Regions from separate parts of the Homo sapiens genome. Here all the other regions are reported to be linked to region 1. The links are microRNA targets in miRTarBase. Many come from high-throughput screens and were not tested one by one. Region 1 holds a microRNA gene; each other region holds the end of a gene's coding sequence. Distances are between the middles of the regions.
Evidence for each region. Region 1 holds the annotated microRNA hsa-miR-222-3p (AGCUACAUCUGGCUACUGGGU, at 1,692-1,712, opposite strand). A microRNA usually pairs through its seed, bases 2 to 8, with sites in the 3' UTR of a target mRNA and lowers its output. Matches are read on the target gene's strand: a 7mer-m8 pairs with bases 2 to 8, a 7mer-A1 pairs with bases 2 to 7 and ends in A, and an 8mer does both.

Region 1 (3,185 bases):
ACGTTAAATCTGTTAACCAATACTAATTTAAATTACATGATTTCCTACTAAAAATATGCAGTTCATATAAGCAAGGGCAAATAAATCCTCCTTAAAACATTTTATTCCTTTATAATTGAGAACTTAACAGTCTTAATGGCTAGTTCTTAAAAAATGTTTATAGGATTAAGTTTATTTAAGAGAGCAGACAAACAAAACATATTGTAAAACTAGTATTTTCCAGAAGCAATTTCCATTCTCTTCCTTTCTTCCTGCAAACTGGTGTTTTATCTTTACAAGTTCTCTGTCATTCCATAAGAAAGCTGAACAGTGGTTAAAACATCCAGTTTGCTTGAATTCCTGAGTGATTCAGATTCCAGTGAGATTGAGGGTCATTCATAACAGTTACAAGGCTGGTGTGGTAAAGGGAGAACAAAAATAAACTGGGTTTCTGCAGGTAAGTGAGAAGACAAAATGAAGAGGAATAAGGTTGTAAGGCAGTATGATTAGGCTTGTGGGTGCTATGCCTTCTGATAATAATTATGAACAGAAATAGAAGCCAAAAAGTAAACAACATGTAAGTTGTCAATCTTTGACAGTTGAGGCAGGGAGAAGGAAGGAAGGATGACATTACACCTTATCTCTGGTTTACTAGGCTGGTGTGTGAGACCATTTGGGTGAAATCGTATTGAAATCATTCATTGCTGAGGTGATCAGCTTTCTTGCGGTCCTTTCTCTGCACTCTATTCAATGATAAACTCCACTGGTTTATACCTCCTGGAAAACAGTTATTCAGAAACATTATAGGGGTAGCATTGGTGAGACAGCCAATGGAGAACATGTTTCCAGGTAGCCTGAAACCCAGCAGACAATGTAGCTGTTGCCTAACGAACACAGAAATCTACATTGTATGCCAGGTTCATGCCCCAGACCTGGATGTTCAGCTTGCAAGTAATTCTCACATACTATTTCAACACAACTGCCTACTGCATTCAAGATTTCAAAATTGGCATTTGTCTTTTCTACCACAAGGAAAAGAAAACCAACAGTCAGAAATGCTGGGACTTACCTACTACCAACAAAATTTCCTTAAACCATCATATCATCAAGTTGTCATCATTTAATCATGACATCATGTTGAAAATGCCATCTAAAAGTCAAGAGATGAAAAAGCTGGATGGAAGGAAGGTCGGATAGATAAACTGGTAGGTACGTGGGCAGGTGGGTGGATGGATGGATGGATGGGTGGATGGATAAATGGGTGGATGGGTAGGGGTAGATAGGTAGGTAGGTAGATAGATGAATAGATTGATCTATCCAAATGATACCTTTCATAGGGGGGAAAGAGAAAAAAAGAGGTAAAACAAAAACAGGTAAGAGCTAAAACATGGATAAATATCCAGATTCCTCCCCCTTGTAGTATTGAAAGCAAATAGACCTCATCATTCATAAAACCTTGAAGGTTCCCAAGCCCCAGCTGATAATGTTGGACTTAACACCCTAGAACTTGACTCTCTCCTCTCTCTCTGTCTCTCTCTCTCTCTCTCTCTCTCTCTCTTTGTGTGTGTGTGAGTGTGTGTGTGAGTGTGTGTGTGTGTGTGTGTGTGTGTGTGTGTGTGTGTGTGTAATTCAAGGTAAAGTTTTCATTATTAAAGACTGCCCAATAATCTCTCTCAGGACACTGAAGCAGAAGCTAGAAGATGCCATCAGAGACCCAGTAGCCAGATGTAGCTGCTGATTACGAAAGACAGGATCTACACTGGCTACTGAGCCATTGAGGGTACCTACACCTTCCAGCAGCTGGGTGATCCTTTGCCTTCTGGGGAGGGGCTCTGTGGAAGAAAAAAGAAGATATCAGATTTCAATTGCACATTTTCTTTGGATCATGAATTGACATTTTGACAATATTCCCATGTACGTAATTTTAAACAACCTCTGGATTTATTTACTTATCCAACAGATACTGACTGAGTGACATTAAATAAAGTGCCACATATTTTCTTAGGTGCTGGAGATCCAGCAGCAAACAAAAAAAGTGGAAAATCTCTATACTTCTACAGCATACATGATTCCTTGTGACAAAATCTACAATCAATTATTTGGTATGTTTTGCAGTAAAATGGAAATATACACAAGAGAAAAACAAACAAGCAAACAAAAAACCAATCTACCATTTTATTGTGGCTTGGAGCATTTTTGTTGCTTCCTGTCACTTTAACTTGGGTAATCTAGCAATGATGCACATATGTAAAGTAAATTGCAGTTAAAAAATTCTTTCGTGTTACGAACTGAGGATAATACAGTTATTTTACCAAATATCTCAAACACCAAAGAAAATTACAGAAAATGCATATTATAATAAATATTCAAAGCAGGTGCTCACTAGCATGTCAGTTCCAAGCTTTCCTCCCATGATACAATGAAGGTAACAAAATAAGTCACAGGATTGGTGTTCTCTTTGCTATTCATTTATCCACCCCAGAAATACTTACTGAGTACCTTCAATAAGTACCTTTCAGTACCTTACTGAAATACTTCTGCGTGCTTTATTCCAGGCACTGGGAATGCAACACTGAACAAAATCCTTGCACTCACGGAAGTTTAAGTCTAAGATTTAAGGAAAGGGTAGAAAAAGACTGAAAAAAACCTCCATAGATATGGACGGTCATTTCATAGAGTAATGAAACAGTTAAGAGGAATGCTATTTTCGATAAGGTGGCTAGGAAAAGCCTCACTGAGGGCCTGGCATTTGAGTGGATTCCTGAAGTAGGAGGAGAAGAATCATGTACATACCTGGGGTGGGAAAGGACACCACAGGGAGAGGCAAGAGTCAGAACAAAAAGCACTGAAACAGGAAAAAGCCTGGTATCTTGGACAAGGTGTTCTTTTATTAGCACATGACCACATGGCCAATTATTGTTTCCTACTTTTAGGATTATTCTAGAAGGTAAATGACTATGCAACTTTTCTCCAAGTACACGTCTTAGAATCCTTTGCTGTGAATTTAAAATGCTTCAGCTATCACTTAGAAAAGATTTAATAAAGCTACTGTCAATTGGAAACTAGTACCATTTGATCGGACATGCAGCTATACCACAGTATGACACACACATATTTATCACCAAGAGAAAAGTGGCTTTTTAAAAATGTGTTAGCTATAAGAAAAGATAACCAGCTTTCTGGGAGCTCTAAATATATACATATCT
Region 2 (3,185 bases), 63 Mb from region 1:
CTATCCCTTCTCTGGTCCAGCACCTTCTTCTATGTATCTGATCACCCCCTGCCACACTCCCCATTATGCACCCACTCAAAAGCAGAAAGCCAAGAGAATAATGCTGGAACTTTTTTCTTTTATTAAACAGATGGGAATTTCAAGTCTCCTTTGCAGGTATGACTTTGTTCTATTAGAAGAAATTCAATGATTGAGTCTAGAGACCATCACCAATGCTGTACTTAAATCCTATGACTTGTGCCACATAACCTGGTGAAGGCAGAGTCAAACATGTAGAAGAAGAAGAAAAAAATCTGTTTCTCTGCACAATGCCTGGCTCACTCTTGGGCTCCACTGGAAGAAAGTAGAACAGTGCACGCACGTGCAAAGATGCTGTCCACCAGAAATGTCAGTGACAGCCTGGGGGCAAGAAGAATAACTGCCCTTGTGTCTTTGCCCAGCTGATATTCCTCACAGGCAGCCAGCAGAGTTGATTAACCATGTCCATGCCCAGGCAGTCTCCTCTGTATATCTCTCAAAAACTTCTAGTTAGATTTTGTTTTGTTTTGTGTTGTTTTGTTTTAAAACAGGGTGGGGGTGACAGCTCTCCACATTAATTCTGCAAGTAACTTTTGTTTTATTATCTTTTTCCTAGAGTGATTATATTGCCACAAAAACACATTTTAGAAGAAAAGTGATGCTTATGGAATTTTATCTTCGTCTACTCCAGATCTGCCTAAAGGAAAGAAAACTCAGAGGCTTCTGAGTAGAAAGCAACCCAAATTTCTACAAGCCTACAAGTGGACTCTGGCAATTGAATGATCCTATTCATGCAGATCATTCATACTGCTGCTTATGGATCCAGTGATTTCTAATTAACAATATTTACACTGTGCTTTGTTTTTTGTTTTCTGGTTTTCCTCCCCAGTCTGTCCCTTTGAAAGGAAACAGATACTATACAAGTGAGCATCTCATAACTCTTTCCCTCTTTAAAAAAAAGTAACTTAGAATACATATAAATTTGGTCAATGCCAATTTTAATAATGTAAAATATTTAGATTCAATTTTGAAGTTGAAAAACTTTAAACCAGGGCACATAAAGAAAAAACAGCTGTCATAATTGGAAGGAAGGTATGATCTGGAATCTTTTTTCCGAGTATTACACACACAAAACATTTCTTGATCAATGAATTAAATGTCAACTGAACTGATATCTTGATGGGGCATTACCAGTATTTTAAAGGCAGGACTAAAGGGCAGATTATTTCAAGTTTTGCTCATTAGCAAAACTGCAACATTCTGCTCATGTTATATGTCAATGAAACTAATATCTTGATTGAGCATTTCCAACATTTTAAAGGCAGAACTGAGAAACAGCTATTTGTTCACATACAACACTGTGATGTTCTGCCTGAAAATCGATTGAGTATTTCCAAACCTATTATTTTTCATTTATTGTGAAACCTACATTTACCTCCTAAAAGAAACAAAGCTCTTCAAAAGTCTCTTCCCAAGGCCCCTCCCTGCTTCTCTGGGCCTCTCCCCACTTTCAACCTCTATTCTACTTTTTCTTATTCTTTCTCCATTTTCCCCAATGCACACTCTTCCTCTTATGCCCATGGCTACTATAAAGAGATCAATTTCCCATATTCAAGAAATTAGTGTTTACTTATCAATCAATATTCTGACAAAAACTTAAGCCAAAAAGAACCTCTTATAAGGCCTTGTTTCCTTCTGGATATTGAGCCAATATAAGATGTACCAAATTAAAAAAAAAAATCAGAGCAAGCTCCCCCCCGTTCTATTTTTGCTTGCCTCTGATGTAAACTGAATTAAGATTTTAGGTACCTGGACCTTTGAGAACGTGACACTAGCAAGGTGGTGACCACAGAGAATAGGTACAAAGGTCTTGAAGCTTGCTTAGAGCTTTGTTCCGTGGTGGCACACAAATCTTGGCTTGCTGTACCATCATTGGCAAACCTCATCATATCACAGTTGGGTGTGTTTGTATGTGTGTGAGCACTAGTGTGTGTGTGTACATATTCGTGTGTATGCACACTTTGTGTACCTGTGTACATGTGATTGTAGATGTACCTGTTGTGTGTAAACTCTGTTAAAATGAAATTTGCTTCGCATTTAATGTGCAACTTTGAAGTAGTGTAATATTTATCTAAAGGTTTTCACTACTTGGTTTTAATGTCTTTGAACGTGTACTTCTATCTTCAAGCAAGCTTATAGTACGTGTTGCTAAACTAACTTTTCCAAAGAACCGAGTTGACTTCTATTTTTCCTTGCCTACCAACCAAAGGGATGGTGGGCTCTTTTTTCCCTCTTGTAAATTGTGCTGAGGAGAGGACGTGGCTATGAGATCAGTCATTGTTCCAGTTACTGGTCACTGCTAGGGCATCAACTTTATCAGTTCCTTCAGACTCTTCTCTTTTTCCAACCTAATCAAATAACGCAGTGTGGCTTTTGTTCATTATAACAACGCGCTCTTTAGGCAACTTTTTTTCAAGCCTTCTGTCACCATTTTATTTTTTCAAGTAAGTTAAGTAATAATTGTTCAGAATTGTGGGAAAAAAGATTACTTGGGGGAAAATACTGTATCACTTTATTTGCATATTAGGTTCAGAAGCTGCCAGCAGACAGGGTACAGAGGGTACAGCACAGATGTAACAGTTGCTGAATAAATGAATGAGAAACCTCATACACAGTAGTACGTATTATACAAATAGTAACAGGTACACATAGTCACAGGTACTGCATAACAAATGCAATCTTGTTCTCATTATTTATTAGTTTACAGACAATTAATTTATTCAGTATTGTGCTGGAAGAATCTTTGTGGAATATGTTTACCAACTTATCACTTACCTTCCAGCTATCAGTTCATGCTGCTAAGAAAAAACAATGATGGAATATTTTTGTGTGTGTGACCTCTACATTTAATTTGATATCAGGCATAGTCACTTGGTCGTTAAAAACTGAAACTTTACAGTTCCACCAGCTAATTACATCTGCTATTTCTGCTTCACAGATATGCTTTGAGTTGCTTTGGCTTTGTCTTCCTTTGTAAATACTCTTGTACTTTCTTTTCCTTGTAAACATCTCGTTTGCAGTTTTGGGAGACGACTTTGCAACTCTGTATAGTGTTTATATATATATGTATATCTATATATATCTGACTTGCCTTTCCATACAGCTAC
Region 3 (3,185 bases), not on the chromosome of region 1:
AGTCTGGGAGGTTGAGGCTGCGCTGAGCCGAGATCGTTGCTGTGCATTCCAGCCTGGGTGACAGAGCGAGACCCTGTCTCCAAGGAAAAAACAAAGCAAAAAAAAGAAAAAAAAATCTGTATGCTTACCTGACTAGATAGTTTTACATTTAAACATGTAAAAAGAACTGGGATATCGAATTTCTCAGTGGATTTCTTTACTATCATTTCATAACACTGCTAACATATTTTTTTTTTCTCTCTTAACCAGGAAAAGTGGGTTGAAGTTGCCTCAATGAAAGTGCCTAGAGCAGGCATGTGTGTTGTGGCAGTCAATGGTCTTCTGTATGTTTCTGGAGGTCGATCTTCCAGCCATGATTTTTTGGCTCCAGGTACCTTGGACTCAGTTGAAGTTTATAACCCTCATTCAGATACATGGACAGAAATTGGTAACATGATCACCAGTCGTTGTGAAGGGGGCGTTGCTGTGCTATGAAATATAAAGCATAACAGAGCACAAGGAACATTTTGAAAATGCAGGACCTGACCTTTTGCAAAGCAAACATAGATTTGGTGATAAGACCCTCTGATTCTGTGAGTTTTCCATGTATTTGGTAGATAAATGACTAACGAGGCTGGGCGCAGTGGCCTCATGCCTATAATCCCAGCACTTTGGAAGGCTGAGGCAGAAGGATCACTTGAGCCCAGGAATTTGAGGTTGTAGTAAGCTACGATCATGCCACTGCACTCCACTCTGGGCAACAGAATGAGATCCTGTCTCTTAAAGAAAAAAAATAAACTCAAGAATGATTTTTCTAAAAATATGAGTGAGAATGGATATGGAATATATCCCAATTAATAAAGAGCTCACACAGATTTGCCAGGTTTACTAATAATAGAAATGCCATTTATGCTGTAGAATTCTCCAGTTTAAGTGTAGACAACTCCTATTTTACAAATTTGTAGAAATTATTTACTAGAAGCTTCCTGGCAAATAGTCCCTTTAGCTACTTCTCCAGTGCAGTATAAATTGTAACATAAAACTTTATGTGATATAGGAATAGTGTCAATGACACAGTTTAAAGACCTCTATATTCACAATTATATCCAGAGCATAATTTTCCATGGCCATAGTTTGAGCCACAGAGAAAGCCAATGAAATAGATTCCTACTTTTATTTAATGCCAAGAGTTTTCACTAGCCCCAAACTTTTTATTGGCAGCAGATATCCTAGGAGGGGTGTTTGGGAAATATCTAGCTATTTTAATAGATAGATACCTTTTTGCTTGATGATAAGTTTTTGCTTGCTCATATTTTTTGTCTTGATCCTGAGAATGCAAGTAAGGAATTAATAGGAGGTTCTTAGTGACCAGATGTTGTAATGGGCTATACAGTCCAGCAGGCAGTATGCACCTAGAAATTTCTCCCTTTTTTAGGCTGGGCATGGTGGCTCACACCTGTAATCCCAGCACTTTGAGAGGCCGAGGTGAGACGGGAAGATGGCTTGAACTCAGGAGTTCGAGACTAGCCTGGGCAACGTGATGAGACTCCGTCTCTACCAAAAAATATATAAAAATTAGCCGGGCGTTGTGGCTTGTACCTGTGGTCCCATCTGCTTGGGAGGCTGAGGTTGCAGGATCACTTGAGCCCAGGAGGTCAAGGCTGCAGTGAGCCAAGATTGTGCCACTGCACACCGGCCTGGGTGACAGCATGAGAACCTGTCTCAAAAAAAAAAAAAAAAAAAGAAAAAAAAATTCTTCCTTTTTTGCTAGATTGTTGTCACCAAAATTATCTGTTTGGCTTTAGGAAGAGGGAATTTTATTAGATTATCAAGCTTTGTAAAATTTATTTGTACTTGGGCAAACCTAAGTAAGAGCATACTGCAAAGCTACTGCTTGGATGTAGAGGGCTAAATTGTAGGTACTTCTGAAACTTTTTATAGATACTGACTCATAAGTGTAATTTGAAAGTACCCCTTGACCCAAACAAAACTGCTTCTCAAAACTTCTCATTTTCTCCCTGAGAAGCATTCTAAAGAATTGTTCTCTGTTCATTTCTAAGAGAAAGATTTACTGGGTGTATGATGCGGTTACTTTTAAGTTATTTCTACTGGCCAGTTGGAGCAATATATATTAAAGGTCTTGCATACAGTAAAAAAAATTTTTTTTTGAGATGGAATTTTGCTCTTGTTGCCCAGGCTGGAGTGCAAAGGCGTGATCTCGGCTCACTGCAACCTCCGCCTCCCGGATTCAAGCGATTCTCCTGCCTCAGCCTCCCAAGTAGCTGGGATTACAGGCGCCCACCACCATGCCTAGCTAATTTTTCTGTATGGGGTTTCACCATGTTGGCCAGGCTGGTCTCGAACTCCTGACCTCAGGTGATCCACCTGCCTTGGCCTCCTGAAGTGCTGGGATTACAGGCATGGGCCAGCGTGCCCGGCTGCATACAGTAAAATTTAACTAGTTGACTTAAGGATTTGATTTCCCGTTTCTTTTTTTTTTTTTTAGATGGAGTCTTGCCCTGTCACTCAGGCTGGAGTGCAATGGTGTGATCTCAGCTCACTGCAACCTCTGCCTCCCTGGTTCAAACGATTCTCCCGCCTCAGCCTCCCGAGTAACTGGGATTACAGACGTGAGCCACCATGCCTGGCTAATTTTTTGTATCTTTAGTAGAGACGGAGTTTCACCATGTTGGCCAGGCTGGTGTTGAACTCCTGACCTTGTGATCTGCCCACCTTGGCCTCCCAAAGTGCTGGGACTATAGGTGTGAGCCACCGCACTCTGCCGATTTCCCATTTCTTTGCTAAGGTCCTTCAGTATATTACTATAAGCATCATCAACTTATTTAGATAGAAAACTTTTAATTGCATTAATGAATTAGGTAGCACTCATATCCAAATTATTTGGTTTAGGCCGGGCACCGTGGCTTATGCCTGTAATCCTAGCACTTTGGGAGACTGAGGTGGGCAGATCACTTGAGGTCAGGAGTTCAAGACCAGTCTTGCCAACATGGTGAAACCCCGTCTCTACTAAAAATACAAAAAATTGGCAGCAGGTGGTGGTACATGCCTGTAATCCCAGCTGCTGAGGAGGCTGAGGCAGGAGAATCACTTGAATCCAGGAGGTGGAGGTTGTAGTGAGCTGAGATCATACCACTGTGTTCTAGCCTGGGCCATAGAGCAAGACTTTGTCTCAAAAAAAAATAAAA
Region 4 (3,185 bases), not on the chromosome of region 1:
AAGTCTGGGGACCTCTTTCTCCAGGTCCTCGTTTATCCCTTCTGAGACGTCTCCTTCACTTTCTGGAAGCTGTGGTTAGCCCAGATCCCATCTTTTAGTTCTCCAGACCAGAAAGACCCCAGGCTTTCCACTGCAGCCTTAGCTGTCCTACAGCTGCATCATGACTATAGCTGGTACTTAGGTTAAAAACATTAACCTTAGCTTGTGCCTGTCTCTTCCTCCGTATTTTATCTCCCATCCAAAATCTTTCTAGTTTTTCTTCAGTTTCCTGAACTCTCAGGTAGTTGTTTCTAGTATTTTGCTCAGAATCTATATTTATCATCTGTGGGAATGTTGGCCTTTAGATTATGCCACCCTATTGGAAGAGAAAATTTCATGTCTTTGCTTTGCATTTGCTGTGAGCTTACTTGAAATGCCAAAACCGCCACCACCACAATGAATCCTCTCTTCACATGGTTGAGGTTCTTCTTTAAGGTAACATTCACGTTGTACATACTGCTCATACAGGTATTTTTCTTAAATTTATTCTGTACAATAAATACAAATGTTCAAGCTGTCAGTGACGTAGTATATCTTAGGTTCTGGAGACTGACAAGATTTGTCCATGGGCCCTGACACTCCTAACTGTATTATCACCCTGAGCAAGTTTCCTAACTTTTCTGCTCAACTCACTCAATTCCTCGATTACACCATGCTGACAACAACAGTATTTACCTCACTAGGTTACTCTGAGGATTAAATATGACAATACATACAAATGAGAACAGCAGCTAATGTAAAGAAAGAGCTTGTTAAATATTAGTTAACTCATATTACTGCAGATGTGTGAAACAAATGTCCCCAATCCCCTTAATGTCTTCCCTCTAATGAAAAAAAGTTACAACAATTTAATACATGTTTGAGGGTTTTCAAAGATCAAGATTATACAAGACAAAAATCAGGAACGCACACAAGCAAAACATTTTTAGCAGAGAAAAGGAAATGAGTACGTAAGCCAAAATAGTCAAACTCCCAAATTATTTTTAAAACGTTGGCTAAAACAGCAATGAAGTACCACTTAATAACTAACTGTTAAATCAGAAATATTAAAATTAACAGCAAGTACTGACTAATTTGTATACTATGGTATACTTTAATATTGACAGTGTGAATTGGTAACTGTTTTGGCACAGTCTGTAATACATTTGAAAGGAAACAAAAAAACTATATTTGACATTGGACTTTCTGTAACTCAACATTTACAGCATTATTTCCTCTCCCCTCCACAGTGGACAGAACTAATTCCAGATTCAATCCTTTCCAATGTGTCCCATAATATCAATTACTGCATGTTTTCTGACATCTCATATGTATGGAGAATGAAGGGTGGGAAATGTCAAGCCCAGGGCCAGGAAGTACGGCCATATATCAGGGGAAGTATGATAATAACACTAAGGAAATAAGACTAAAAAATCAAGAAGAGATGTGGGGCCAAAATAACACATGGAAGATCAGATTACATCATGTCAGACCTTTCATGATTCAGTTTGGGGTCACTGTTCTAGTGATGACGTACCAAAAACTGTAGACAGTATTCTCATGGTGTTCGCTAGTGTCATCTTTCAAGTTCTAAAGGAATTTCATCCCTTTGAACTGGAAAGCGGAAGACAAATAATCATCCAACTTTTGAGTTATTTTGGTGGAACAGATGGATTGAGTTATTTATATTTATACATATATATATCAGACTCAGGGAAAAATAAATTTGGTTTAGTCTACTGGCACCTACATTCTTGTTTACCAATAGGTTGTTAATGACTGGATTATGAAAAGGCTGACAAAAATCTTGGAAAATATTAACAAACTTCAGATAAATTTGCAGCAGATAGTACCACGCAACACACCTCCTAAGCTTTGATTTAAAAATACTTACACAGCTTAAAAAAACAAAAACATTAAAGTCGTAGAGACCAATTATTAAGCGTATAGGAACATGATATTCATGTATCATTAAAACGTAGAGACCAATTATTAAGCGTATAGGAACATGATATTCATGTATCATTAAAATAAGGATTCTTTCAAGATCTGTTTCCTATCTCAGTCTAAATCAGGGGTCTGGAGTTGTGGCCTTAAAAAACTAGCCTCAAACGGCTCCATGCATGCATAATAGCTTTATATGTGTTCCCTTTGTTGGTCCAGTTACCTGATTTATAATTCTTCCTTACCTGAATGACTTTAGAAAACACATTAATATTGCCTTAGGAATTAAATCAATTAAACACTGATGATCAGCTACATTTATCATGTAATTTAATCTGCTTTTTTGTATATTAGCTTTTACATATAGAATCGGGTATCTCAGGATCCCTAATATATAAAAGACCCGCATAAGAAAAAAACATTTGATGATATGCATAAAATCACAACCACAATAATTGGACCATAATTAGACTAGTTAAGAGATGAGGAATATATGCTCATTTGTAAGCGATAAGTGATTATATAAAGAGAAAACATGGGTTAAGTAACACAGTAACATTAATTTTTGTATATAAACAAATTAGTTATCTCAAGTCCTTAAAAGTTTACATTTAAAAAAACAGGTCAAGATGAAGAAATAACTTTGTAGTTTAAACTTCCACATGTGCTCCTTTGGGTGGTTTTGCCTTGGATTTTGCTTCCTTTGAAATCTTTCCATTTTGACATTGAGTAAATCTGGCTACTGTAGAAACACCATCCACAAACTTGGTTTTGAAAAGAACGTTTGCATTGTTGAACATACCTTCTTTTAGTGACACCACAATGAACTTAAGGAAAAAAGAAAAAAGTATAAAAAAACTTTTTGTGATATACTTGAAGTTTACTCCTTTATACTGGTGATAAGAATGGTTTGGAGATAATTTTATTTCTTTAAATAGTTATATGAGGCACCTAAATGAATGCTAGCTGTCCATATTGTTTTAGAAGTCTCTTAATTTTACTTTGGGTACTTCATTACCCAATTTTACTATTTCCTGGTGGTTGACTGCTTGTTGCTATCTTTTGTAGCTGGCATTCAGTTTTGTTGCTAACTAAAGCTGCTCTAGTGAGATATTTTTCTTGTGACATTTTAATATCAAAGAAGGTTTCAAGTTCCTATAGCACACCACTAGCCCAAACAGAACTTCTGAATAATTAGGCACTGCCCCGCCGCCCCATTCAAT

Region 2: the mRNA of IRS4 is a reported target of hsa-miR-222-3p. The part of its 3' UTR that is shown has no 7-base or 8-base seed match.
Region 3: miRTarBase lists IPP as a target of hsa-miR-222-3p. The part of its 3' UTR that is shown has no 7-base or 8-base seed match.
Region 4: the mRNA of SMC2 is a reported target of hsa-miR-222-3p. Seed matches in the 3' UTR shown: 7mer-m8 at 2,274-2,280.

Annotation. Positions count from the first base shown.
Region 1 is chrX:45,745,345-45,748,529 of GRCh38, forward strand. It overlaps MIR222 (microRNA 222), which reads right to left and starts at 1,780; the gene lies at 1,671-1,780. MIR222HG (miR222/221 cluster host gene) reads right to left here. Exons shown (of 2, transcript NR_170290.1): 2 at 1-3,185. MIR221 (microRNA 221) reads right to left here and starts at 922; the gene lies at 813-922.
Region 2 is chrX:108,719,973-108,723,157 of GRCh38, reverse strand. IRS4 (insulin receptor substrate 4) reads left to right here. Exons shown (of 2, transcript NM_001379150.1): 2 at 635-3,185. The coding sequence ends at 639. Among named protein-coding and RNA genes, the nearest start is that of IRS4-AS1, 15 kb to the left of the region's middle.
Region 3 is chr1:45,697,255-45,700,439 of GRCh38, reverse strand. IPP (intracisternal A particle-promoted polypeptide) reads left to right here. Exons shown (of 9, transcript NM_005897.3): 9 at 250-1,729. The coding sequence ends at 474. Among named protein-coding and RNA genes, the nearest start is that of TMEM69, 11 kb to the right of the region's middle.
Region 4 is chr9:104,138,743-104,141,927 of GRCh38, reverse strand. SMC2 (structural maintenance of chromosomes 2) reads right to left here. Exons shown (of 25, transcript NM_006444.3): 25 at 509-2,789. The coding sequence ends at 2,613. Among named protein-coding and RNA genes, the nearest start is that of SMC2, 46 kb to the right of the region's middle.